7 linked regions of the Homo sapiens genome follow. The protein of the gene in region 1 purifies or fractionates together with the protein of each later gene. This does not show direct contact. Each region holds a gene or a part of one and is shown in the gene's direction. Other genes may lie near its edges.

What was found.
Region 2: the proteins of KLHL15 (region 1) and GRK6 purify together in Homo sapiens (co-immunoprecipitation; one large-scale study listed by IntAct). This does not show direct contact.
Region 3: the proteins of KLHL15 (region 1) and DNAJB4 purify together in Homo sapiens (co-immunoprecipitation; one large-scale study listed by IntAct). This does not show direct contact.
Region 4: the proteins of KLHL15 (region 1) and COL5A2 purify together in Homo sapiens (co-immunoprecipitation; one large-scale study listed by IntAct). This does not show direct contact.
Region 5: the proteins of KLHL15 (region 1) and ZNF451 purify together in Homo sapiens (co-immunoprecipitation; one large-scale study listed by IntAct). This does not show direct contact.
Region 6: the proteins of KLHL15 (region 1) and DNAJC7 purify together in Homo sapiens (co-immunoprecipitation; one large-scale study listed by IntAct). This does not show direct contact.
Region 7: the proteins of KLHL15 (region 1) and CACNB1 purify together in Homo sapiens (co-immunoprecipitation; 3 studies listed by BioGRID and IntAct, with this or other methods). This does not show direct contact.

Annotation. Positions count from the first base shown.
Region 1 is NC_000023.11:24,006,687-24,010,186, reverse strand, and holds part of KLHL15 (kelch-like protein 15), read left to right. Parts: intron 1-3,486; 5' UTR 3,487-3,493; coding exon 3,494-3,500. UniProt on the Homo sapiens protein: Substrate-specific adapter for CUL3 E3 ubiquitin-protein ligase complex.
Region 2 is NC_000005.10:177,436,676-177,440,033, forward strand, and holds part of GRK6 (G protein-coupled receptor kinase 6), read left to right. Parts: intron 1-1,213; exon of another isoform or gene 1,214-2,195; intron 2,196-3,238; exon of another isoform or gene 3,239-3,356; intron 3,357-3,358.
Region 3 is NC_000001.11:78,014,939-78,018,464, forward strand, and holds the end of DNAJB4 (dnaJ homolog subfamily B member 4), read left to right. Parts: intron 1-1,075; coding exon 1,076-1,309; 3' UTR 1,310-3,026; downstream 3,027-3,526. UniProt on the Homo sapiens protein: Probable chaperone. Stimulates ATP hydrolysis and the folding of unfolded proteins mediated by HSPA1A/B (in vitro).
Region 4 is NC_000002.12:189,050,762-189,054,261, reverse strand, and holds part of COL5A2 (collagen alpha-2(V) chain preproprotein), read left to right. Parts: intron 1-49; coding exon 50-103; intron 104-313; coding exon 314-367; intron 368-784; coding exon 785-838; intron 839-1,243; coding exon 1,244-1,351; intron 1,352-1,459; coding exon 1,460-1,513; intron 1,514-2,036; coding exon 2,037-2,090; intron 2,091-2,780; coding exon 2,781-2,942; intron 2,943-3,500. UniProt on the Homo sapiens protein: Type V collagen is a member of group I collagen (fibrillar forming collagen). It is a minor connective tissue component of nearly ubiquitous distribution. Type V collagen binds to DNA, heparan sulfate, thrombospondin, heparin, and insulin.
Region 5 is NC_000006.12:57,142,188-57,145,687, forward strand, and holds part of ZNF451 (E3 SUMO-protein ligase ZNF451), read left to right. Parts: intron 1-3,500. UniProt on the Homo sapiens protein: E3 SUMO-protein ligase; has a preference for SUMO2 and SUMO3 and facilitates UBE2I/UBC9-mediated sumoylation of target proteins. Plays a role in protein SUMO2 modification in response to stress caused by DNA damage and by proteasome inhibitors (in vitro).
Region 6 is NC_000017.11:41,975,935-41,979,439, reverse strand, and holds the end of DNAJC7 (dnaJ homolog subfamily C member 7), read left to right. Parts: intron 1-1,699; exon of another isoform or gene 1,700-2,116; coding exon 2,117-2,179; exon of another isoform or gene 2,180-2,669; coding exon 2,670-2,707; 3' UTR 2,708-3,005; downstream 3,006-3,505. UniProt on the Homo sapiens protein: Acts as a co-chaperone regulating the molecular chaperones HSP70 and HSP90 in folding of steroid receptors, such as the glucocorticoid receptor and the progesterone receptor.
Region 7 is NC_000017.11:39,184,170-39,187,669, reverse strand, and holds part of CACNB1 (voltage-dependent L-type calcium channel subunit beta-1), read left to right. Parts: intron 1-68; coding exon 69-191; intron 192-740; coding exon 741-877; intron 878-1,097; coding exon 1,098-1,174; intron 1,175-1,565; coding exon of another isoform or gene 1,566-1,720; intron 1,721-2,519; coding exon 2,520-2,539; intron 2,540-2,805; coding exon 2,806-2,886; intron 2,887-3,286; coding exon 3,287-3,345; exon of another isoform or gene 3,346-3,437; intron 3,438-3,500. UniProt on the Homo sapiens protein: Regulatory subunit of L-type calcium channels. Regulates the activity of L-type calcium channels that contain CACNA1A as pore-forming subunit.

The DNA of each region.
Region 1 (3,500 bases):
GACCAGTTTTGGATCAGGAACAGGTCCAAGTGGGGTGGGAGTAGGGTTTGCAATGGAATAAGTGGGGAGGTTGTAGGAGTTGAGATGGTCAGGGAGTTTTGACTTACAGTTTTTGGATGGCTGATCTTATGTGAACATTGAAGAGGTGTGAAAGATGACTTAGCCAGGTGTTGAAGTCTTTTTTTTTTTTTTTTTTTGAGATGGAGTCTTGCTCTGTTGCCCAGGCTGGAGTGCAGTGGTGCGATCTTGGCTCACTGCAGCCTCCGTCTCCCAGGTTCCAGCGATTCTCCTGCCTCAGCCTCCCAAGTAGCTGGGATTACATGTGCCAGCCACCACACCCAGCTAATTTTGGTATTTTTAGTAGAGAGGAGGTTTCTCCATGTTGGCCAGGCTGGTCTTGAACTCCTGACCTCAGGTGATACACCCTCCTCAGCCTCCCAAAGTGTTGGAATTACGGGCGTGAGCCACTGAGCCCGGCTTTTTTTTTTTTTTTTTTTTTTGAAAATGGAACCTCGCTCTGTCGCCCAGGCTGGAGTGCAGTGGTGCAGTCTTGGCTCACTGTGACCTCCACCTGCTGGGTTCAGGAGATTTCTCCTGTCTCAGCCTCCGGAGTAGCTAGGACTACAGGCGCCCGCTACCATGTGCGGCTAATTTTTGTATTTGTTTTGTATTTTATTTTATTTATTTTGAGACGGAGTTTCACTCTTGTCGCCCAGGCTGGAGTGCAGTGGTGCAATCTCAGCTCACTGCAACCTCCGCCTCCCGGGTTCAAGTGATTCTCCTGCCTCAGCCTCCCGAGTAGCTGGGATTACAGATGCCCGCCACCATGCCTGGTTAATTTTTATATTTTTAGTAGAGATGGGGTTTCACCATGTTGGCCAGGCTGGTCTCAAACTCCTGACCTTCAGGTGATCCACCCATCTCGGCCTCCCAAAGTGTTGGGATTACAGGCATGAGCCACCACGCCCGGCCTTTAATTTTTGTATTTTTAGTAGAGACAGGGTTTTACCATGTTGCCCAGGCTGGTCTTGAACTCCTGATCTCAAGTGATCCGCCTGCCTCAGCCTCCCAAAGTGCTGGGATTACAGGTGTGAGCCACCATGCCTGGCCCAGGTGTTGAAGTCTTCATCAAATGTTTGAGAGTGATTGATCAGAAGATGTGTATGGAAGTGACAAGGGGTGACAGAAGATGGATTTTTATCTGAGCAAAAGGCCAAGTTATAGAAAAAGAACAATAGAAAGCTAAGAGAAAGAAGACTTGGAAAGTAGGGCTGTAAGCTCTAAAAGTTTTTTTTTTGTTTTGTTTTTTTTTTTTCTAACACGCGTGGGAGTAGAGCTAGAGGTTGGAGGCAGGAGGCCTGGAAGCTGTGACTTTTAGGAAAACTATGTCTCATTTAAATCAGGTCGAGGAGGGAACTTTCTGTGACCAACCTGAGCATGTAGGGGATTTTGTTTACATTGAAGTAAGGTTCCACAGGGCACAGTGGAAAGGTTTGGGAGAGAATTCAGGGATGGAGGATGGGTCATTGGGGAGGAAGCCGGGAGCTGTGTAAGGATGAGAATTAAGAAGATAGATGGTCTGGGGTGGGGGTATGTGAAAAGGAGAAAATTAATTTGCTTCATAAATAACCCAGTAGACTGAATTAGTGGCCAGGCGCAGTGGCTCACGCCTGTAACCCCACCACTTTGGAAGGCCGAGTCAGACGGATCATCTGAGGTCAGGAGTTTTAGACCAGCCTAGCCAACATGGCGAAACCTGTCTTCACTAAAAATACAAAAATTAGCTGGGCGTGTAGCAGGTGCCTGTAGTCCCAGCTACTCGGGAGGCTGAGGCACAAGAATCGCTTGAACCCGGGAGGCGGAGGTTGTAGTGAGCCGAGATTGTGCCACTGCACTCCAGCCTGGATGACAGAGCAAGACTCCGAAAACAAAAAAATAGACTGAATTAGTTTATTCCGCTGTATTTAAGATATCTAATTATAGTTCTCTATTTTACCTTCATTTCTCTGATATGGAAAGATTTGGTTTAATTTCCTTTAAAATTATATATTTGTATTTTTAAATATATAAGCATTACATCATTATTGTTTTTCAAAGTAAGGGTAATGAGGTAAATGAAAAGAAAGCCTCTCCTGAAAACCTACTACCCAGGGACATTATTTTGGTATATATTTCTCCAGACTTTTTCTCATCTAACAAATATATGCGTATTTAGTTTTCGAAGACGTACTCAGTATACTGCAGTCACTTGTTTTTTTTTTCATACAATATCTGATAAATATTCTTTGTAAAAATAAACTGTTGACATCATTTTAAATTGATAATTTATTGTAGGACTGTATCATGTTTTAATAATTTGTTATTGGACTTTTGAATAGTTTCTGATTTTTAAATAATAAGCCTAGATAGAAAAACCTTATATGTACAACTTGCCTATTTATTTGAATATTTCCTTTAGGTAAATTTCTAGGAGTTTTCAGGTATACTTTTTAGTTTCATTTTTGTCCCTTTTCTCATTATTTAGTATTTGGCTGTGAAATCATTTTTATGTTGCTAATTTTGGAACCTGTTCAAAGTATATTTGATGAACAATATGAAATCAATGGAATAGGCATATATTATTTGTAAGATAACAATTTACCATTGTTTGATATATATATATATATATATATATATATTTTTTTTTTTTTTTTTTGGAAATGGGGTCTTGCTGTCTCCCAGGCTGGCATGTAGTGGCATGATCTTGGCTCACTGCAACCTCCGTCTCCCGAGTTCAAGCGATTCTCCTGTCTTGGCCTCCTGAGTAGCTGGGACTATAGGTGCATGCCACCACACCTGGCTACTTTTTGTATTTTTAGTAGAGTTGGAGTTTCATCGTATTGATCAGGCTGGTCTTGAACTCCTGACCTCAGGTGATCCACCCACTTCGGCCTCCCAAAGTGCTGGGATTACAGGTGTGAGCCACCGCGCCCAGCCGACATATATATTTTTAAGAGATAGGGTCGTGCTCTGTTGCCCAGGCTGGAGTGCAGTGGTGCTATCATAGCTCACTGTAGCCTCAAACTCGTGGGCTGAAGGGAATCTCCCACCTCAGCCTCTGAAGAAGCTGGGGCTGCTGGCAATGTGCCACCATGCCCAGCTACTTTTTTTTTTATTGTTATTATTTTGTAGAGACAGGGATTTGCCATCTTGCCTAGGCTGGTCTCCAACTCCTGGGCTCAAGCGATCTTCCTGCCTTGGCCTCCCAAAGTGCTGGGGTTATAGGCATGAACTATTGATGTATCTTTAATAGATTCTTTTCCTTAGATAGGGAAGCCAGAAATATTAGTCTGCAAACCTTTAGATTGTCTTCTCCCAAAGGACTTGTACATTTTGGACTTAGTCAGTAGAATTGAGATAATAGCAAAAATTGTTAAAACTCTAAGTTAATATTTTCTTCTGAATGCATGGAAGTGTTTAACATTGTTGTCTTTGATTTTTTTCCAGGTGATTCATGGCAG
Region 2 (3,358 bases), on another chromosome or scaffold:
AAAAGGAAAAGCCCCAGGATGGGTCTGGCTTGTGGCATGCCTGGATGGGGCTTGGAGCCTCTGACAATGTCCTAGGAACTCTCTCTCCTTCCCCTCACTGTACCGTTGAGTGTGTAGTCTTCATATTGGGGTAGCTCTCCCCATGGTGCGGCAGCAGTGGGCCCCAGCAGCTCAGCCACCACAGTAGACAGAGAGCTTCTCTTCTCTTTTCTCTTCTCCTCTCCTCTCCTTCCTTCCTTCGTTCTTTTTTCCCTTCTTTTTTCCTTTCTTTCCTTTCTTCCTTTTCTTTTCTTTTTGGAGACAGGGTCTTGCTCTGTCCCCGAGGCTGGAGTGCAGTGGTGAGATCTTGGCTCCCTGCAACCTCTGCCTCCCAGGTTCAAGCGATTCTCCTGCCTCAGCCTCCTGAGTAGCTGGGATTACAGGCGCCCACCACCATGCCCGGCTAATTTTTGTATTTTTAGTAGAGATGAGGTTTCACCATGTTGGCCAGGCTGGTCTTGAAATCCTGACCTCAGGTGATCCTCTTGCCTCGGCCTCCCAAAGTGCTGGGATTACAGGAGTGAGCCATCGCGCCTGCCCTTGCCCAATAATTTCAAAAGAAATCCTCATGGGGGAAAAGAAGTCCCAAAGCTGATGCCCATTGCCTCTCATTGCTCAGAGGCCCCTCACTGGCCACACCCAGATCATACACCCACCCGAACCTGCACCAATGGGGGAGCTCAGTTCCCCAGAGGAAAACTACAATGCAATTGCCAGCAGTGGGAGGGGCTGTTGGGCTGGCCATCCTTCTGTGGGTGGTCACTTTTCCTTATGGAGTCTCACCTGTTAACTGAGCATCTCAGTGGGCCAGGCACCCAGCAGGCAAGAGTATCCTCTAGTTGTCAGAGTCCGGGTGGCAGAAAACCAACCTAAACTCACTTAAGCTCACCGTGGAGTGTATTGGTTCATTTGGCCAGAAAGTCCCAAAGTAGGGCCAGCTCCAGGGTTTCCTGCTGTGTGCCACGATTCTCCAGCTCTTGCCTGGCCTTCAACCTGTTGACTCTTTCCCTCCCCCTGAATTAGGCTTCTCTGTGTGACAGTCATAGGGAAGGTTCTGATTGGCTAAGATGAGGTCATGTGCTTTCCCCTTCCCATGTCTATGAGGACTGGTCCTGTAATTAACGGTTCACCAGGAACACTGGAGAGGCCCGAAGGATGGGCAGGGCAGGCCAGGTTGATAGCTGTCAATGACACACACGTTTATTGATTCAGCAAATAGCTGAGTGCCCATTTATGCCAGACCCTGGAGATAATGAGGCCCACTGGAGCCAGTCCTGCCCTTACATTCTAGTGGGAGACACACCCAAACAAACCCGTAAGCCAGAAGGAATTCCAGGTAATGTTAAGTGTGACAAAGAAAACTAAAGCAAGCGGCTGGGTGCGGTGGCTCACGCTGTAATCCCAGCACTTTGGGAGGCTGAGGCAGGCGGATCACCTGAGGTTGGGAGTTCGAAGACCAGCCTGACCAACATGGAGAAACCCCATCTCTACTAAAAATACAAAATTAGCTGGGCATGGTGGCGCATGCCTGTAATCCCAGCTACTCGGCAGACTGAGGCAGGAGAATCGCTTGAACCCAAGAGGAGGAGGTTGCGGTGAGTTGAGATCGCGCATTGCACTCCAGCCTGGGCAACAAGAGTGAAACTTCATCTCAAAAAAAAAAGAAAACTAAAGCAAGCTACGAAGATGGCAGAGAATGATGGTGGGGGGAGCGCTTTTAGACACCGTGGTCTCTGGGGAGGTGATGCTGGTGCAGAAATGTAAAATATGTGAAGCGGAGAGCCATGCCAAGGTTTGGGGTGTGAGCATTCCAGGCAGAAGAAACAGCCGGGTATTGCAGTCCTGAGGCAGGGGCCAGCCCTGTGAGGTGGAGCAGCCGCGAGGACACCTGTGTGGCTGAGTGAGCCCGTGCAGGCAAAGAGGAGTGCCGGCAGGTTCTCAGCAAGATGGGACCGCTGGGGGACCCTGGGCAGGAATGTGAGGTGTGGGGAGTGGGCCATAGTGGGTGTGAGTGGAAGTGGGGAGGCCAGTGAGGGGGCTACTGCCCTGAGTGACTGCCTCACATGGGCCTCACTGGAACCGCTGGCCAGGCTGGTCTCGAACTCCTGACCTCAAGTAATCTGCTCGCCTTGGCCTCCATACCTCTTGGTCTATACCTAGAAGTAGAATTACCAGGTCATATGGTAACTATGTTTAACCTTTTGGGGAACTGCCAGACTGTTTTCCAAAGCAAAGGTGGGCCCTGTCAGAGGCACTTACTTGAACTAAGAGAGCCTGACTTTCATCAGCTCGCCCCTGAGGCTGGCACTGCCACTCAGTCTGTTCTGTTTCCTGTGTACATCATCTCATTTAACCTTGAAATAACTACACTGCCTCTGGATCTTCCATTCAAAGTCGGAGATAAAATCAGTGCCCTGGAGTTTAACTTTGTGGAAGCAGTAGATGAAAAAGCAAGCTTGATGATATTTTTTTAACAGCTCTATTGAGTTTAATTTATATGATTTATATACCATACAATTCACCCATTTAAAGTGTACAATTCGGCTGGGCGTGGTGGCTCATGCCTGTAATCCCAGCACTTTGGGAGGCCAAGGTGAGTGGATCACCTGAGGTCAGGAGTTCAAGACCAGCCTGGCCAACAAGGTGAAACCCCCGTCTCTACTAAAAATACAAAAATTAGCTGGACGTGGTGGCGCATGCCGGTAATCTCACCTACTTGGGAGGCTGAGGCAGGAGAATCGCTTGAACCTAGGAGGCGGAGGTTGCAGTGAGCTGAGATCACACCATTGCACTCCAGGCTGGGCAACAAGAGCAAAACTCCCATCTCAAAAAAAAAAAAAAAAAGTGCAATTCATTGGCTTTTTAATTATGCAGTCAGCACCACGATAAATTCTTGAGTGTGTTCATTACCTGCCCCACTCTGCAAAAAAAAAAAAAACCCATACCCTTAGCAGCCATTCCCCATGCTTCCCTCCCGCTGCTCCTAGCAATCACCAGTCTACTCTGTGTCTCTCTCTGTTTGCCTACTCTGGACATGTCATAGCTATGGCATCACATAGTATGTGATCCTCTGTGCCTGGCTTCTTTCACTTAGCATAGTATCTTCAAGGTTCATCCATGTTGTAGCATAGATCAGTGCTTCATACCTTTTTAAGGCTGAATAATATTCCATTGCATGGATAGACCACATTTTCCTTACCTGTTCGTCAGTTGGTAGACATTAAGATTGTTCCCACTTTTTGGCTGTTATTGCTGCTGTGAACATTCCTGTACAAGTTTTTGTGTGTGCAGATGCCGCCATTTCTCTTGGTCTATACCT
Region 3 (3,526 bases), on another chromosome or scaffold:
CTCTATGGAACACTATTGTTTCTTACCCTGCTCTAATACCTACCTGCTACTGCCCAATGCTTAGTTCAAGCATCCTCTACTCCCGGAATCTAAGGGGTTAAGTTGGGTGCTCTTTCTCTTACAAAAGACCTCCATGCTTACCTCTGTTCTTACACTATACAGTATTATAATGGCTAGTTTGCTTCTATGTTTCTGTGAGTTCCTTGTGCATTCCTTGAGCTGGGGTCTGTGTTCATGGTCCCTATAAGGCTCACCATCTAGCCAGAATGTGTGGCATATAGTAAATGCTCAGTAAACATTTGTTATCTAAAACAAATATATTTCTTGTCCTAATACTTTCCAGAGAAATAGTTGCTCCTATCCAGTTCTTTCTAGTCCTGAATTTCTCCCTCTTCTCCCATTCCAATCCCTGCATCTTGAATATATTAATAGCAGCTTCAAAATAACCATGTCATTCCAGGGCAATGTGGAATATATCCTTTACTTCTCTTTTACCTTTTCTTTTCTTCTTCTTTTTTTTTTTTTTTTGTAACATATCTAATAATGCATGTCCTGAAGGAATTTTCCTTTTTTTCTTTTCTTTTCTTTTTCTTTTTCTTTCTTTCTTTCTTCTTTTTTTTTTTTTTTTTTGAGACAGTTTTGCTCTTGTTGCCCAGGCTGGAGTGCAATGGCACGATCTCGGCTCACTGCAACCTCCGCCTGCTGAGTTCAAGTGATTCTCCTGCCTCAGCTTCCCGAGTAGCTGGGATTACAGGCATGTGCCACCACGCTCGCCTAATTTTGTATTTTTAGTAGAGACAAGATTTCTCCATGTTGGTGAGGCTGGTCTTGAACTCCTGACCTCAGGTGATCTGCCCGCCTTGGCCTCCCAAAATGTTGAGATTACAGGTGTGAGCCACCGTGCCTGACCTCTGAAGGAATTTTCTAATGAGGAAAAAAAATTTATAACTATTGTTATTCTTTTGGAGGTTAAAGTTTTACCTTAGTGGTATTATCCTTTACCATCTGGTAAAATTTGTGCTTAGATTTTTGAGTTTTGAAGTGTTTTCATTTTATTTTATTTGGTCCATTTTAGGCATTGTGTGGCTGCTCAATTAATGTACCAACACTGGATGGAAGAAACATACCTATGTCAGTAAATGATATTGTGAAACCCGGAATGAGGAGAAGAATTATTGGATATGGGCTGCCATTTCCAAAAAATCCTGACCAACGTGGTGACCTTCTAATAGAATTTGAGGTGTCCTTCCCAGATACTATATCTTCTTCATCCAAAGAAGTACTTAGGAAACATCTTCCTGCCTCATAGAATGAAGAACTTTGTTACACATATTTTGATAAGGCACTGAAAATATAAAAGGACTGGTAGTTTACTGATGTAGATGTGAATTCTGTATAAAGATGTGTAAATTCTTTTGAGGGTTCATTAAATTGCATGAATAGAGACGGGTCAAATAAATAGGCAAAAGGGATTTTTACAGTTAGAGATAAAAGAGAAAACCATTCACTGTATTTTATTTCATTTCTCCTGATTCAGATATTTTTAGTAATTTGCTTATATGTAAAAGTTGTTTTTGTGGAGTCAGTGGATATATTTCTAATGAAGTGCTAGACTATCCAATTACTTAATTTCTTATACCTTTAGATAATCAGTATGAAAAGTTCCCATTTATAATGGAAATGAAAATTCTTAACTAAACTATACATGTAATATGTATTTCTAGAAGAGAATAAAAACCCAAGTCAGTTATTAGATTTAAATCACCTTCTGAAATGCTGCTATAGGGCTGGTATCTGTAAAAGAATATCCTGATGCATCTGTTTCACCATTTTGATTTTTAAAGTATGCTGTAGCATTTCTTAATAACATCGTTGTGATGTTCTTAAGGCAGATCTTTCTTCATAAAAAGGAAAGTAATGGCAATTTCTCTCCTGTGGAAATCCCAATTGCTTGAATTACTGATATTTTAGAATAGACTTTTTAAAATGCCATATGTAATTTTATGCAAGTTGACTATATATCTTGTACTTAATAAATTATAGGCTCATTTTGTTCTCTGCTAGTTTAAAGTAATTCGTTTAATAATAGATGTGTTTTTAGAGGAAATGCTGTTACTTGGAATTAATTTTCCAGTTATACAGTCTTCTATAACTTACTAATAATATTCTATATGTACTTTATGTAATTTCCCTAAAAAGAATGAACTACCACTACACTATGGTGTTAAACCAAAATATAGGGAAAATAAACACTAACTGCTGCTTATGGATAATGTTGCAACTACTTGTTATGCATATAAATATTTTACTTTTTCACATGTATAGATTGCATTTCTTAGGTGTTTTAATTTTTTAAATATATTTATGTTTTAAAAATTTAGTTTTGTTTTCTGTTTTATAACTATAGTGAGAATGATGTTTTGAAGCAAAATTTTTGGTTATAAAATAGTTTTCAGGATTATATATATATATACTGGATCCTATCGCCTTTTAGTAGAATATGAAATATTCTTTTAGAAATCCAATATAAATAGGTTATAATAGCCATATTCTTTATTACTTTATTGAGATATAATTTACATGCCATAAAGTTTACCCTTAAAATATATAATTCAGTGGTTTTTAGTGATATTTACAAAGTGGTACAATCATCATCACTTTCTAATTCCAGAATATTTTCATCACCCCAAAAAGAAATCCTAAATCCATTAGCAGTTACTTCCCATTCTTCCCTTCCTCCAGCCCCTGAAAACACTACCATCTACTTTTCATCTGTATGGATTTGTCTGTTCTGGACATTTCACATAAATAGACTCAAACAATATATGGCTTTTTTTTTTTTTGGTCTGGCCTCTTTCATTTAGCTTAATGTTTTCAAGGTTCATCTATGTTGTATCACGTATCAGTACTTTATTTTTTGTGTGGCACGTCATATGGATATACCACAATTTGTTTATCTTTTCATTAATTATGGGCATTTGGCTTATTTCTACTTTTTTGGCTATTATAAATAATGCTGCTGTGAACATTTGTGTGCAAGTTTTTGTGTTTCAATTCTCATGGGTATATACCTAAAAGTGGAATTTCTGGGAGTAACCATATATTTGAGTTGCAAATGGAAAATGCTTGAAAAAAATGCCACAGAATTCAGCTAATCGTATTTATTACTCTAATTCATAAATGATTCCTCTATAACTGTCTCTCTGAATGACAGTTAAAACTCCCTACAGAAGTGTGAACATTACAGAAATTTTCTCACAAGTCTAAAGATCTAGATCTGAAAAGCATCAGTCAACGTGGTGAATGATAGTGGTTTCTGTTTTAAACCCATCATTATTTATTGCAATTTTCTTGATTAAGCATTTTCTCCCAGGTAAAATAAATGATTTATAGATAGATATATAATAATCTTTGGATTAAAAAGTTTTTTTAAGCAGAGAATTATTATTCTAGTAGTAAATAAATTTACATAACTACACAAAACCAGTATACCAGTATCTCTCTTATCTTAAAGGATATTGACAAT
Region 4 (3,500 bases), on another chromosome or scaffold:
TTTCTGTGCATTTTTTACCTCAATATGCCTATGTTCTGTTAATTGACAGGGTCTTCCAGGTCCTTTGGGCCCTCCAGGTCCGGCAGGTCCTACTGGAGAAAAGGTAAGTCACAAGTTGTTAATTTGTACACTCAAAATTATGAGTCCTGAATAGCAGGCTCTTTCATAAATCTTTTCATTTTATAACATATGGTATCTGAGCAAGATCATTTCAGAGTTCTTTTCCACTATCTCCTCCTACACAGTGACCAATGTCCTAAAATTATGTTTAGCTACTGTTTTGGACAGTAACCATCTAAAATCTGCTTTCTAGGGTGAACCTGGTCCTCGAGGTTTAGTTGGCCCTCCTGGCTCCCGGGGCAATCCTGTAAGTGACAGTATTTTGGTGTTCTTTAGTGTGAGATTGAGCAATAAAACAATTAATCATTTTGTTTTTATATTTATATAAAACAATGCTTATTGGTTTTAGGTTATGTATAACTTCCTGGTTTTTAGCTTTTGCTTTTCTAATTAAACTTAAAAATTATCTGCTATACAATCTATTAAGTGTAGTTAGGCAGCTTGTTTACTAACTAATTTGGAGGCTCCTTTGAGACTTCTGACCTTGGGAATTTTGTTCTATGACCTATATCTTTATATAATCCTTAAGGACCTTCCTTAAGCAATATGTGTAATTTTTCTATATTTACATGTCTAACTATCAGATTTATATGATCATATTTTAAAATACTGTTCCTGTTTAGGATAATGTGTGAAAGCTACAGTAATCTTTGTCTCCTCCTAGGGTTCTCGAGGTGAAAATGGGCCAACTGGAGCTGTTGGTTTTGCCGGACCCCAGGTATAATTTTCAAATATCCCTAATTTACAAATAAACACTTATCTTGTTATAATAAGTTTAATGATCATTGTCATATGTTTTGAAGTCGTATTCTGGAAAATTTACAGTTTTCTAGACAATATTCTCATTTTCAATACATTTTTTTATAGACTGGCACAAAACTTGTTTGTGCTAGTTGAGCTTCTATAATTATTTGTTAAAATAAAAATGCAGTGGGATAGCTTATTTTTTAGGCTGTTTTGAAAGATCTCATCAGAGTACTTTTTTTCCTTTAGTATGCTTTAATACTGATTATAAAGCACTGTTTCACAATATATGATTAATTGATACATTAGTAATAATTACTCTAAAGTAATTTGTCTATAAGTCTTATAATCAATTGCTTGTTTGTATAATTTTTTATAGGGTCCTGACGGACAGCCTGGAGTAAAAGGTGAACCTGGAGAGCCAGGACAGAAGGGAGATGCTGGTTCTCCTGGACCACAAGGTTTAGCAGGATCCCCTGGCCCTCATGTAAGTTAACAAGAAAAAGGCATAACTTGAGTCAAGTGCCCCATGTTTGGAGTGTACATTCAGCCTCTTTTGCTTCACTATAGTGCTCTTTTGTTTGTTTCTATTCAGGGTCCTAATGGTGTTCCTGGACTAAAAGGTGGTCGAGGAACCCAAGGTCCGCCTGTAAGTTTATTTGATGCTCTGCAAAGTATGCACAGCTAATTCTAGTTACCTAGTGCTTCCTGGTCATGTAAAAGATAATTTTCATCTGAGACTGAAATAACAAATTATTACCTGTATCAACTGTACTATAGTGCAAAGGGCACTTAACTCAGATGGAGATTTGGGTTAAAATCAAGTTTGTAATCTTGGAGACCCAGGTGCCTCACCTGTAATGTAAGTAACATACTACCTATATAAAAGAGTAAATAAACAATGTGAAAGCACTTTATTTAATTTGATTGTATAAAATATCAATGTGATTCTAGTACTACCTGCATGGAAAAAGGAAAATAGTGCCCTTCCTACCAGTTAATCTAGATTAATTCCCCAAAATATGGGATTCGTACGAAGAAAAAAAAATATTGCTTACAACATGAAAGGAAATCTAAAGGCTTCAGTCTTCCTGTGAAAAAAAATCCCAGGAAAATACATGTAACTAATTTATATTACCTTAAAAATTGCTTATATGATATTCTGGTTCTAGGGTGCTACAGGATTTCCTGGTTCTGCGGGCAGAGTTGGACCTCCAGGCCCTGCTGTAAGTCAACTTAGTGAGACAAGTCACTGATAATGAAATAATTACACACACACGTATACATTTGAGTTAAATTTATTATTTTATTTAATTTCTTAATGGTATGTTTTCTTATTTAACAACTCTTATTCCAATAATGCATGCTGGTATTTCAGCAAAGCAAATCATCCTTAATAATCTAGTATTTCTTGGAGGAGCTAATTTGCAAGTTCTTTTTAGCCCCAATGTTTTATTATTATTCCGTTTAAATACTGAATACTTACAGTATTATGTGCTAATAATCATTCTCTTCAGTTAAGATGCAACTATGAAACTTTCTTTAATAAATGTCATTCATTATAAGATCAAATCATAAGAATAAATAATTATCTCAGAATAAAGTATTATATATTCATCATTGGAGTGGAGCTTTAAATAAGTTTGAAAATTCAAGTTAGTTGCACCACTCTTTAAAAATTATTCAAAGGGAATTGACTGCAAATGATATTTAGTTTTCCCCCTGGGGAATGAATCTACAGCTGTGTTTTCTTTTGTTTTGTTTTGTTTAAATCCTATAGAATGACTGATTATCTAACAGGTAAAATGAACCTGCGAGGCTTGGACATCTGCATCTGAGGCAGACAGCGTTATGTCAATCACTCTTACTTGCCTTCCATTTTGCCCTCCTTGGTGTTTCTTTCTTTGTTATACTAGGGAGCTCCAGGACCTGCGGGACCCCTAGGGGAACCCGGGAAGGAGGGACCTCCAGGTCTTCGTGGGGACCCTGGCTCTCATGGGCGTGTGGGAGATCGAGGACCAGCTGGCCCCCCTGGTGGCCCAGGAGACAAAGGGGACCCAGGAGAAGATGGGCAACCTGTAAGTTTGGCGTATCCGTTCCAGACCACCTTCAACTGAGATATTTACAAATAGAAACCCATAATGATCAGTGTCACAAAAATGCTTAAATATTATGCTGGGCACATTCCTAAAATTTTTAAAGTGCATTAAATCTATAAGGCTTTAGGAAAAACGTGTATATATATAGATTTTAAAAATAGCAGTAATAGATATGGTATCTAAAAACTAAACCCAAAAAAATTATTTGTTAAATGTTCATTGTGTATGAATAACTTTAAAAATATATGTATATTATATTTTATATGCAAATGCCTTTAAATATTGTGTTTAGATAACTCTTTTTTCCTTATTGTTAAACTTTCTTTTTGTCTTTTTATAAAGAAGAAAAAATATTTCTCTGAAGTTACCTCTTTTATTGAGTCAGTATTCACATTAATCTTCAGTTTCTTTCCAACGGATGAGCTGTTTTCACCTTTAAATAATGTTAGAGGTTCTGTGCGGATTACAATTTATGACTACTCATATGCAGTATGATTTTGAGAAACAGAGAACTTCTTTTTCATACTGAAAAACCTG
Region 5 (3,500 bases), on another chromosome or scaffold:
TTTTAAAATGAGAATATACAGTTGCCTGGAAATTAGCCAAATTTAACATAGTGAGAGAAGTTAGAGTTGTGGAAAACGTGGATATATTGATATTCTGCAAGTGTAAAGCAAGCTAACAGTTCTAAGTTTTGTGTATGTTCTTCTGTGTGTGTTCTGTAAGTATGAGTAGGAGAGGAAAGGGTTAAAGTAGAACCTTGGCTTTAAGTCAACCAGAATGGAAAGTATCATATACATTTGAAAGATTAAATCTCAATGAAAGGCCAAATTTATCAAGTAACCAAGAAAGAGTCCAGTATGATTTGTGATTGCCATAGTATCTGTGAGATTTATCTATATTGTTTAGTACATTGTTCCTTCTTATTGGTAAGTAGTATTGTGTGAATATAGCACAATTTGTTGATCCATTCCCTTGTTGATAGATAGTTGGGTTGTTTACAATTTATAGCTTTTATGAATAAAGCTGCTTTGAATACTTTGCACAGGTCTTTTCATGGTCATATGTTTTCATTTCTCTTGGATGGACATTGAAAAGTGGAATTGTTGGTTCAGAAGTAGGTTTATATTTAACTTTATGAGAACCTACTAAATATCCAAAGTTGGTCGTATTAGTTTCATTCCTACAGGTAAGGTATGAAAGTTCTAGTTACTCTTCACCCTTGCTAACATTTGATATTGCCACTCTTTTTCATTTTAGCTATTCTTGTGTCTCATTTTAGTTTATTATGTGCATTTTCTTGATAAACAATGATGTTGGGCACTTTCTTGTGTTTATGGGCTATTTGTTTATCTTTGTGAAATCTCTGTTCAAGTCTTTTGCCAGTCTTCAAAATTGGATTGTTTGCCTTCTTAATAGTGAGTTGGGGTTCTTTATATATTCTAGATACAAATCTTTTGTCAGATTCGTATCTAGAATACAGGAATTTCTAGAATATACAAATATTTATGAGTATATTTTCCTGTGATTTTGCATATTCATATTTTTAATTATACCTTTTGATGAACAGAAGCTTTTCTTTGCATTAGGTGTATAATTTGTTGATTATTTTCTTCTTTTATGGTTATGCTTTCTGTGTCCTGAGAAACCCTTGCCTCTTCTTGCTTAAAGAATGTATTTTATTTCCCTAAATTCAGCTTTGATATTTTTAAATATTTATGTTTATTTCTATAATCTATTTCAAATTTTTGTTGATTTTTACAACAACCATTGTCTGGTTTCCCTGGCAATTCTCTGTTGTTTGCCCATTTTCTAGTTCATTGATTTCTGCTCTTTAAACTTTGAGTTTAATTTGCTTATCTTTGTCTAGCTCTTAAAGGTAGAAGTTTAGATTGACTTTGGATCTTTGTTTTCAATATAAACATTTAAAAATATAAATTTCCCACTAAGCACTGCTTTACCTGCATGCCACAGATGTTGATAAGTTGTGTTTTCATTTTTATTCAGTTAAAAATACGTATCTCTTTTTTCCTCATTTAACCATAGAGTTACCATATGATCCAGCAATTTCTGCTTGTTGACAGCCAAGAGCAAAGTGAACTTGCTCTTGTTCACAAATACTTGTATGTTTGTTTATAGCAGCATTATTCATAATAGTAAAAAAATGGGAACATCCCAAATGTCTATCAGCTGACAAATGGATTTTTTTAACTGGACATATCCATACAAGGGAATATTATTTGGCCATGAAAAGGATTGAAATCCTGATTACATGTTACAACCTCAATGAACTTTGAAAACATTATGCTAAATGAAATAAGCTAGTCACAAAAAGTCCATTTATATGATTCCATTCACATGAAATTCCAGAATAGGGAAATCTGTAGACACAGAAAGTAGTTGCTTAGGGTTCAGTGGTTGCTTGGAGTTGGGGAGCATGGCGAAAAGGGAGGTGGGGAGGTGATAGCTAAAGGGCATGGGTTTTCTTTTTGACATAACACAATGTTCTAAAATTAACTATTGATGGTTGCACATATCTTTATGTGAAAAATAGTTGAAATTATATACCCTAAATGGATGAATTATATGGTATATGAATTATGAATTATATCCTTTTTTTTTTTTTTTTTTTTTTTAAAGATAGGGTCTCTGTCTGTCACCTAGGCTGGAGTGCAATGGTGCAATCTCGGCTCACTGCAACCTCCACCTCCCAAGTTCAAGTGATTCTCGTGCCTCAGCCTCCCAAGTACCTGGGACTATAGGTGTGTGCCACCATACCTGGCTGAGTTTTGTATTTTTTGTAGAGACGGGGTTTCACCATGTTGGCCAGGATGGTCTTGAACTCCTGACCTCAAGTGATCTGTCCGCCTCAGCCTCCCAAAGTGCTGGGATTACAGGCATGTGCCACCGCGCCTAGCCGTGAATTATATCTCAATAAAGCTGTTTAAAAATGTTTTGGAAAAATGTTATCTTTGCCCTTTTGATTTATTGTTTGACCTATAGGTTTATTAGAAATGTGTTGCTTGGCTGGGCGTGGTGGCTCACACCTGTAATCCTAACACTTTGGGAGGCTTAGGCAGGTGGATTGCCTGAGCTCAGGAGTTCGAGACCAGCCTGGCTAACATGGCGAAACCCCATCTCTACTAAAAATACAAAAAATTAACCGGGTGTGGTGGTGAGCGCCTGTAATCCCAGCTACTTGGTGGCTGAGGCAAGAGAATCGCTTGAACCTGGGAGGCAGAGGTTGCAGTGATCCAAGATTGTGCCACTGCACTCCAGCCTGGGTGACAGAAGGATTTTCTGTCTCCAAACACACAAAAAAGATATGTGTGGCTTAACTTCTAAAGGTTTATAGATGTTACATTTAGGTATTTAATTTATAAACATTTAGGGATTTGTATTATTTTTTGTTTCCAATTTAATTCCACAATAATTAGAGAACATATTTTGTACAGTTTTTTTCTTTTGAAATATATTAAATGTATAAAATGGTAGCAGGTCTGTTCTCTCTGGAGTTTAGTAGTGAAGACACAGTTGTTCTATTTTTTTATTTTCCTAGGGAAGTTGATTTATTTTGAGTTAATTTGTGGAATAGTATGTGGTTTTATTGAGCCTAGTTCTTCAGTGCAAAAGCAACTAGGGGCATGACATTTGTCTGACATAAAATTAATCAGTTCTTTATTTTTATTTCTTATAGATTCAGGGGGTACGAGTGCAGTTTTGTTACATGGGTATATTGTGAAGCTCAGATATCTGGGCTTTTAATGTCACTATCATCCAAATAGTGAACATTGTACCCAATAGGTTATTTTCCAACCCTCACCCATTTCCCAACCTCCCACCTTTTGGAGTTTTCAATATCTGTTTATTATTCCACTCTATATGTCCACGTGTACCCATTGTTTAACTCCCACTTAGAAATGAAAATTTGCAGTATTTGACATTCTGAGTTATTTCACTTAGGATAATGGCCTCCAGTTCCATACATGTTGCTTCAAAAGGCATGATTTCATTCTTTTTTATGACTCAGTAGTATTCCATGGTATATATACCATATTTTCTTTAT
Region 6 (3,505 bases), on another chromosome or scaffold:
TTGGCCTCCCAAAGTGCTGGGATTACAGGCGTGAGCCACTGTGCCTGGCCTTCCATTGCAACTTATTTATTTATTTAATTTTTTTTTGTTGTTATGTTTTTGAGACATGGTCTTACTCTGTCACCCAGGCTGGTGTGCAGTGGTGCAGTCTCAGCTCACGGCAACCTCCACCTCCCAGGTTCAAGAAATTCTCCTGCCTCAGCCTCCTGAGTAGCTGGGATTACAGGCACCTGCAGCCACACCCGGCTAATTTTTATATTTTTAGTAGAGACGGGGTTTCACCATGTTGGCCAGGCTGGTCTCAAACTCCTGACTTTGTGTGATCCGCCCATCTTGGCCTCCCAAAGTGTTGGGATGACAGGCGTGAGCCACCGCACCCAGCCGGAATTTAAAATAAGAATGATGGTACTATATAGATAATGCTGAGTCCTCTCCAGTTCAGTGTGGGGGTATTTGTGTTTAATAAACCTAGGTTCACCACAATAAACATGTTCCTCTGCCTAGCAGTTAAGAAGATCTATAAGCAGTCAAAAACTAGTGAAGAGGTTTTGTTTTGTTTTGAGACGGAGTCTCACTCTGTCGCCCAGGCTGGAGTGCAGTGGCGCGATCTCTGCTCACTGCAAGCTCCGCCTCCCGGGTTCACGCCATTCTCCTGCCTTAGCCTCCCAAGTAGCTGGGACTACAGGCACCTGCCACCACGCCCGGCTAATTTTATTTTATTTTATTTTTATTTTTATTTTTTTTAGTAGAGACGGGGTTTCACTTTGTTAGCCAGGATGATCTCGATCTCCTGACCTCGTGATCCACCCACCTTGGCCTCCCAAAGTGCTGGGATTACAGGCCTGAGCCACCACGGCCAGCCGTGAAGTTTTAAGTAGGGGCACTGTGGACCAGATTTTGGCTCTGGAAATATATTTGTGATAGGGGTGAGGAGGTTGGGGTTGGAGGGAGTAAGGAGAATGGAGATGGAAGGAAGACACAAAAGGTAGGAAAGGATTGGAGGGCACAGTCAGGGAGTTAGTTAGTGGTAGACTCAGCAGGAGTTGGTTGCTATTCAGATGTGTTGGGGAAAGTGACAGGCATAGCTGACTCGGGGTCATTCACTAAGCCAGGAGCCCAGGAAGACACACAGATGCAAGCAGAGAAACTCACTCTGGGCACGAGGTGGCTGTGGGATCACCTGGTGGGGGTCAGTCCTTCTGTGAAGCTTGGGCAGTCAGTCAGGGATGGGGCCACCAGACATGCTGTGGCCTTGCAAAAGTGCACAGAGCCAGTCAGGCAGGAGTTGGATTTTCCAGTTCTGCTGCTTTCGCTGCCATGTGATCGTGGGCAAGTTACTTGAACCACCTACATATGTTTTGTTGAGTATTAATTGGGAATGATACTTACCCTGACAAAACATTACTAGGATTAAGTAATGTAATGTATGCAAAGTACCTAGTACTTTGCACCTAGTAGGTGTTTTTGTTGGTTTGTTGTTGTTATTAAGACAGGGTCTTGCTGTCACCCAGGCTGGGGTGCAGTGTTGTGATCATAGCTTACTGCAGCCTTGAACTCCTGGGCTCAAGTGATCCTCCCACCTTAGACTCCCAAAGCACTGGGATTATAGGTGTGAGCCACCACGCCCAGCTAATAAACCATAGCTTTTTTTCTAGCCTAGAGTCTACGGAGTAAAAGACATGGAATCAAATACAGTAAATCCTAGATCTTGCTCTTATATTTATTTTTGGTAACATTTAAGTGATACATTTTATCCTTTTTAGTAGCCGCTCCAGCATTATAGGGAGACAGAGTATGGGGAAAGTCTTGTGTAAGTGCAAATGGCATTCCATTTGTTGAGAAAACAGCCCAATGAAGCAAGCTGAAGCAGAGAAAGCTTCCTTTGGGGCAGCAGTTGGAAGGAGAAGGGAACATGTCCTAGGAGTGGGATCAGGTAGCATGTTTTGCACGGGATGGGGCAGGTTTGCTCACTTGCAGTCTGAAGTGTTGGGAAAGGAGGGGAGTGAGACTCTCCAGGAAAGCTTTGGAGATCTGTTCTCAGTGTCATCAGTTCTCTTCGAACATTTCTAATTTTTCACCTTTTCTTCCCTTCCATGTTACTTGCCCTGCTCTACAGATTTTGATCCAAACAATATCTTCAAGGCATTCTTTGGCGGTCCTGGCGGCTTCAGCTTTGAAGGTAGGTGGGCCTGCTGTTCTTGGGAGTTCCCAGATCACAAGCCAACACACTCATTGCCTCTTAGGCAGCTCTTTGGGAGTCAGAGGGGCCCATGAGCGGGGGCAGCTGAATTCTCATCTAGCAGGGCATCTATCCACTCGGCTGTTGCTAAGGATGAAGACAGGAAGGTTCCCAGGCACCCCTTGCCTTGGGACCTTTAGCCACCGCATCTCTGCAGGGTCAGGGAGGCATCTCTAACTGCCTAGTACCAAGGCTTCTCTGCAAGAGCAAAGGTACTATATAGATAATGCTGAGGTCAGAAGCTACCCATGTATAATACAGTCACGTGCTCCCTCTTGCACCCAAAAACAGCCTGAGCTGTTTGATACCCATAGAGTTTCTCTCTGTGTTTGAGTTTGAAGCAGCCCTTGAAGACTTTTCCATAATCAGAGCAAAGTGATCTTCCTTAGAAAATCCATAGCCAACTACCAACCCCTCTTTTCTCTTTCAGCATCTGGTCCAGGGAATTTCTTTTTTCAATTTGGCTAATGAAGGGCAACCACCCAGAACCCAGAAAATGCAGATTCACTCAGTTTAATCTTGAATGTGGAAACAGTTCACCTCCTCCCTTCATCACGTCTCCGTGTGCTTAGAGCAGTTTCGTTTTCTCAGTTGGATGCCCTGTGTCTCTGTGAGTGGGGTGGAGCAAAGGGAACCAATGCCGAAGACCGAGGGCAGGGGAGGGAGGCGGGGGTGGACAGGGAGGCAGCTTGTGAATTTTTGTTTTACTGTTTAACTTTATTAAAAAAGAAAAAAAAAAGAGAATAAAATGTTTTGACCCTTCCTGGCCCTTTGCTCTGGCATCTGCATTGTCTCCAGTCTGTGAGCCAGAGCTGAGCCCGACCTGGACTTGGGGTGCAGCAAGCTGCTGCATGCGGGCTGTGGGCACCCAGCCTAGTGGCAGGTGGGGCACTCTGCCTCTCCCAGACCTGTCCAGCATGTGAGTGCTAGGCAGGCCCCGGCTGTGCCTCTGGGCCCAGCCTAACATCAGTCACAGAGAAGCGAGTTCAGAAAGCATGCTCACTTTACGGTGGGGCCCCAGAAATCACTAGAAGCTGTGTGTGTCCAAAGCTCAGGTGGGTACTAAAAGCTGTGTGCGTCCAAAGCTCAGGTGGGTACTGACCTAGACAGGGCAGTTTACTTACAAAGACTCTCACAGTTCCTGTTGCAGTGTGGGTTCGAGGGAGATGGTAGACAGAGATAAAACCCTGCCTCCTGACCCCCAGACCCATTTGAGGTGGGACAGGTGGCTCCAGAGCTCTGGTCTGGCCACTATTTTTAGCAAAA
Region 7 (3,500 bases), on another chromosome or scaffold:
TCAGGAAGTTGTACATTACATTGTGGTTTGCCCTCTAGTTGCCATCCTCCCCTGTGTGCCTCCTCTAGACCAAGCCAGTGGCATTTGCTGTGCGGACAAATGTTGGCTACAATCCGTCTCCAGGGGATGAGGTGCCTGTGCAGGGAGTGGCCATCACCTTCGAGCCCAAAGACTTCCTGCACATCAAGGAGGTGGGTATCTGGAGGGAGGGCAGGGAAGTGGGTGCCAGGAGACAGGCAGCCAGAGTGCTAGTGGACAAAAGGCTTCTGAGCCAAGCAGAGCCAGGCTGAATCTGCTGTGTGACCTTAGACAAATCTCTCCACCTCTCTGAGCCTCTTAATTTTCTACTGGAAAAATGAGGTGGTAATGCTTAGGTCAGAAGGTTGTTGGGAGGGTTTGTTAGGGGGCCTGAACTGGCATGGCGGTGTGCCAGGGACATGTAGGTATCCGCATTTACTCCAGCGGCCTTTGTAGAGTAGGGTGGGCACATGGGGAGAAGGACTCTCAGAATTGCATTGGGCCGGTGGCAGGGTGGTCCATGGCCAGAAAGCATGCTGGTCCTGGAGTTGTCCTGAGAATTGGCAGCTCCACTCAGAGGCTGGAGCCAGGGCTGGGGATTTTTGAGGGTGCCACCCCTGGGCTGGGAGGTGAGTCTGGGCGTTTCCCCTAGAGAGTGACTGCTAGCTTGCCCCTGCAGTTTCCCTCTTGCTCTTTCCACCCACCTGCCATATTCTTTGCAGAAATACAATAATGACTGGTGGATCGGGCGGCTGGTGAAGGAGGGCTGTGAGGTTGGCTTCATTCCCAGCCCCGTCAAACTGGACAGCCTTCGCCTGCTGCAGGAACAGAAGCTGCGCCAGAACCGCCTCGGCTCCAGGTGTCTGGGTGGGGCAGGGGAAGGGGATGCTGCCAACCCCAGGAGAGGCCATACAGCCTGGACTAGGCCTCAATGGTTGTCCCTGGCCCTGAGGGCACAGAGCTGCCTGTGGCATCACCAGTGGGGCTGGAGCACCTCCGGGGGTGCCGCATGTGAGAGGATGAGAGCCCCCCACGCCCACCTCTTTGCTCACAAGCTCGGTTTGCCTCTGCCCACACAGCAAATCAGGCGATAACTCCAGTTCCAGTCTGGGAGATGTGGTGACTGGCACCCGCCGCCCCACACCCCCTGCCAGTGGTAAGAGCCATCGCCATGCAGGGGTTTGGGAAGAAGCTCCTGGGTGGGGTGGTCTCCCCACTCCCTGAATCCTCCTTTCCCTGCAGTAGGAAACACCCCAATCCTGAGTCCCCCAAGCACATGCAGTGGTTCCCCCTCCATGAAGAGTAGGCTACCCCTCAAGCTGGGCCTGTCATGTCTCTCCTCTCCCTTTTCTTTGGTAGCTCCATCTCTCTGCCTGATTCCCCTGCCCTGCCCCCATTCATTTCTCCCAGCCCTGTTCCATTCACCTCTTCTTCTTTCTTTTTTCCCCATCCCCATCCCTGCGTTCTGTACTTGTGTCTCCACGTTCATCTCACTCCTTCTCCCCACCTCGCCTCCCTCCTCCCTCTCTCCTGACTCTCCGGTCCAGGTAATGAAATGACTAACTTAGCCTTTGAACTAGACCCCCTAGAGTTAGAGGAGGAAGAGGCTGAGCTTGGTGAGCAGAGTGGCTCTGCCAAGACTAGTGTTAGCAGTGTCACCACCCCGCCACCCCATGGCAAACGCATCCCCTTCTTTAAGAAGGTAATTCTCGCTGTGTTCTTGCAAGAGGTGGGGGAGTCAGGGCCAGCACTTTGGTGGAGGGAAGGGGGCTGTAATGGATTCAGATGTGGTACCAACCTGTTCTGTGGGCATCAGGGCTTCCTGCTGAGGTGGAGGGAAGGGTAGCATGGGCACATCCCCCTCCACACACAACTCCACCCTGGCCCGATCTCCAGGAAGGAGATCTTGCCCTTGGAAGGTTGCCCCCACACCTGGGGCAGCAGGGTTTGGTGGTCATGAACCCTGACCTCTCCCCTCACTCCCAGGGGCCTGCTCTGGTGTTGGTGTCTACCTTGGCATGTGAAGCAGGACATGGGATGGCATTCCTTCTTTGCCCTTTTTTGACTCTCTGGGTGGGCACATAGTGGGGGGGGGCTGCTGGCTGCAAAGCAAGACAGTTAAGGGAACCCCTAAAATGGGCATGTTGGCATGCACTGGGGGCAGGAGATGGGCAACAAGATAGGGGCTGTCACCCTCTCCAGCTCTTTTCCAAGACCCAGAAGAGGGTAGGATATGTCTGAATATTCCCACATCCACTGGACTGACTGTCAGTCCTGCTCCCAGCCCTGATCCAGGGCCACCTCTGGCTCCCCCTTGGCGTGGGGTCCCGTTCCCCGTCTCTGGCTCTGTCTGTCACTAACACGCATGCCCTGTTATCTCTCCTCGTCTGCCCGGCTCTCCCTCCCTCTCTTGTCCTGGCTCCTGCCTTGCCCTCTGCCCCTGCCTGGGTCCCCTTCCCTCTCTCCTCCCCCTTCCCTCTCTTGGCAATCTCTGGACCCAGCCAAACAGAAGCAGAAGTCGGTGAGTATCACAGCTTTCTGTGTCCTCCTCCCCACTCCCTGGGATGAGCTAGGGGGACCTTCTAACACCCATTCCCACATCTGTCCCCCATTTCCCCCACCCTTCCTGGTTCTCCCTGGCCATCCCTCCCCACCCCCACCCTGATCCCTACATCTGGGCTCTGGGACCAGGGTGGGGGAAGGCTGCATGGGGGAGCCTGGAGTCTGGGGGAGAGGATCTAATGTCATCTCCACTCTGGGGTTTCCCCTCCCTGCTTCCCCCCCCAGACAGAGCATGTGCCCCCCTATGACGTGGTGCCTTCCATGAGGCCCATCATCCTGGTGGGACCGTCGCTCAAGGGCTACGAGGTAGGACTTCCTAGAGGGGAGTGGATGCAGAGGGGCCTTAGAAAGATCTTCAGACCCCAGAGAGATCCCCTAGAAGGGCCCGATCCCAAGGCATCCTCCCAGGAGGGCTACAGACTTTCAGAGACAACCCCCAGGGGGCCCAATCCACAGAAAGACCCACTCAGAGGAGCCCCGTCCCCCAAAGAAACCCTCAGAAGAGCCCTCCCAGAGATGCCACTTACAGGGACCTTGGAACCAGAGACCCCAGTGGAGGCCCCTCAGACTCAGACCCCCGCCCGCCGTAAAGGCCTGTCCAGAAGAAAGTGGAACGTGAGGGTACAAATACCCAGCGACTCAGAGTCTGAGCGGCTTTAAATGCCTGCCTTCTCCTCCCTCCCTCCCCACAAACCCCCACCCCCAGGTTACAGACATGATGCAGAAAGCTTTATTTGACTTCTTGAAGCATCGGTTTGATGGCAGGTAAGATCCTGGGAGCTGCTCCTCGCACCTGCCGTTGCTCTCTGCTGCTGGGGATGGGCAGGATGCCTCGAATCACAATCCTGGGACTCGGACTGAGGAACAGAAGGCGGGCCTGGAACTGGGGAGTGGGCAGGGCATTCCAGCCCACCCTGACC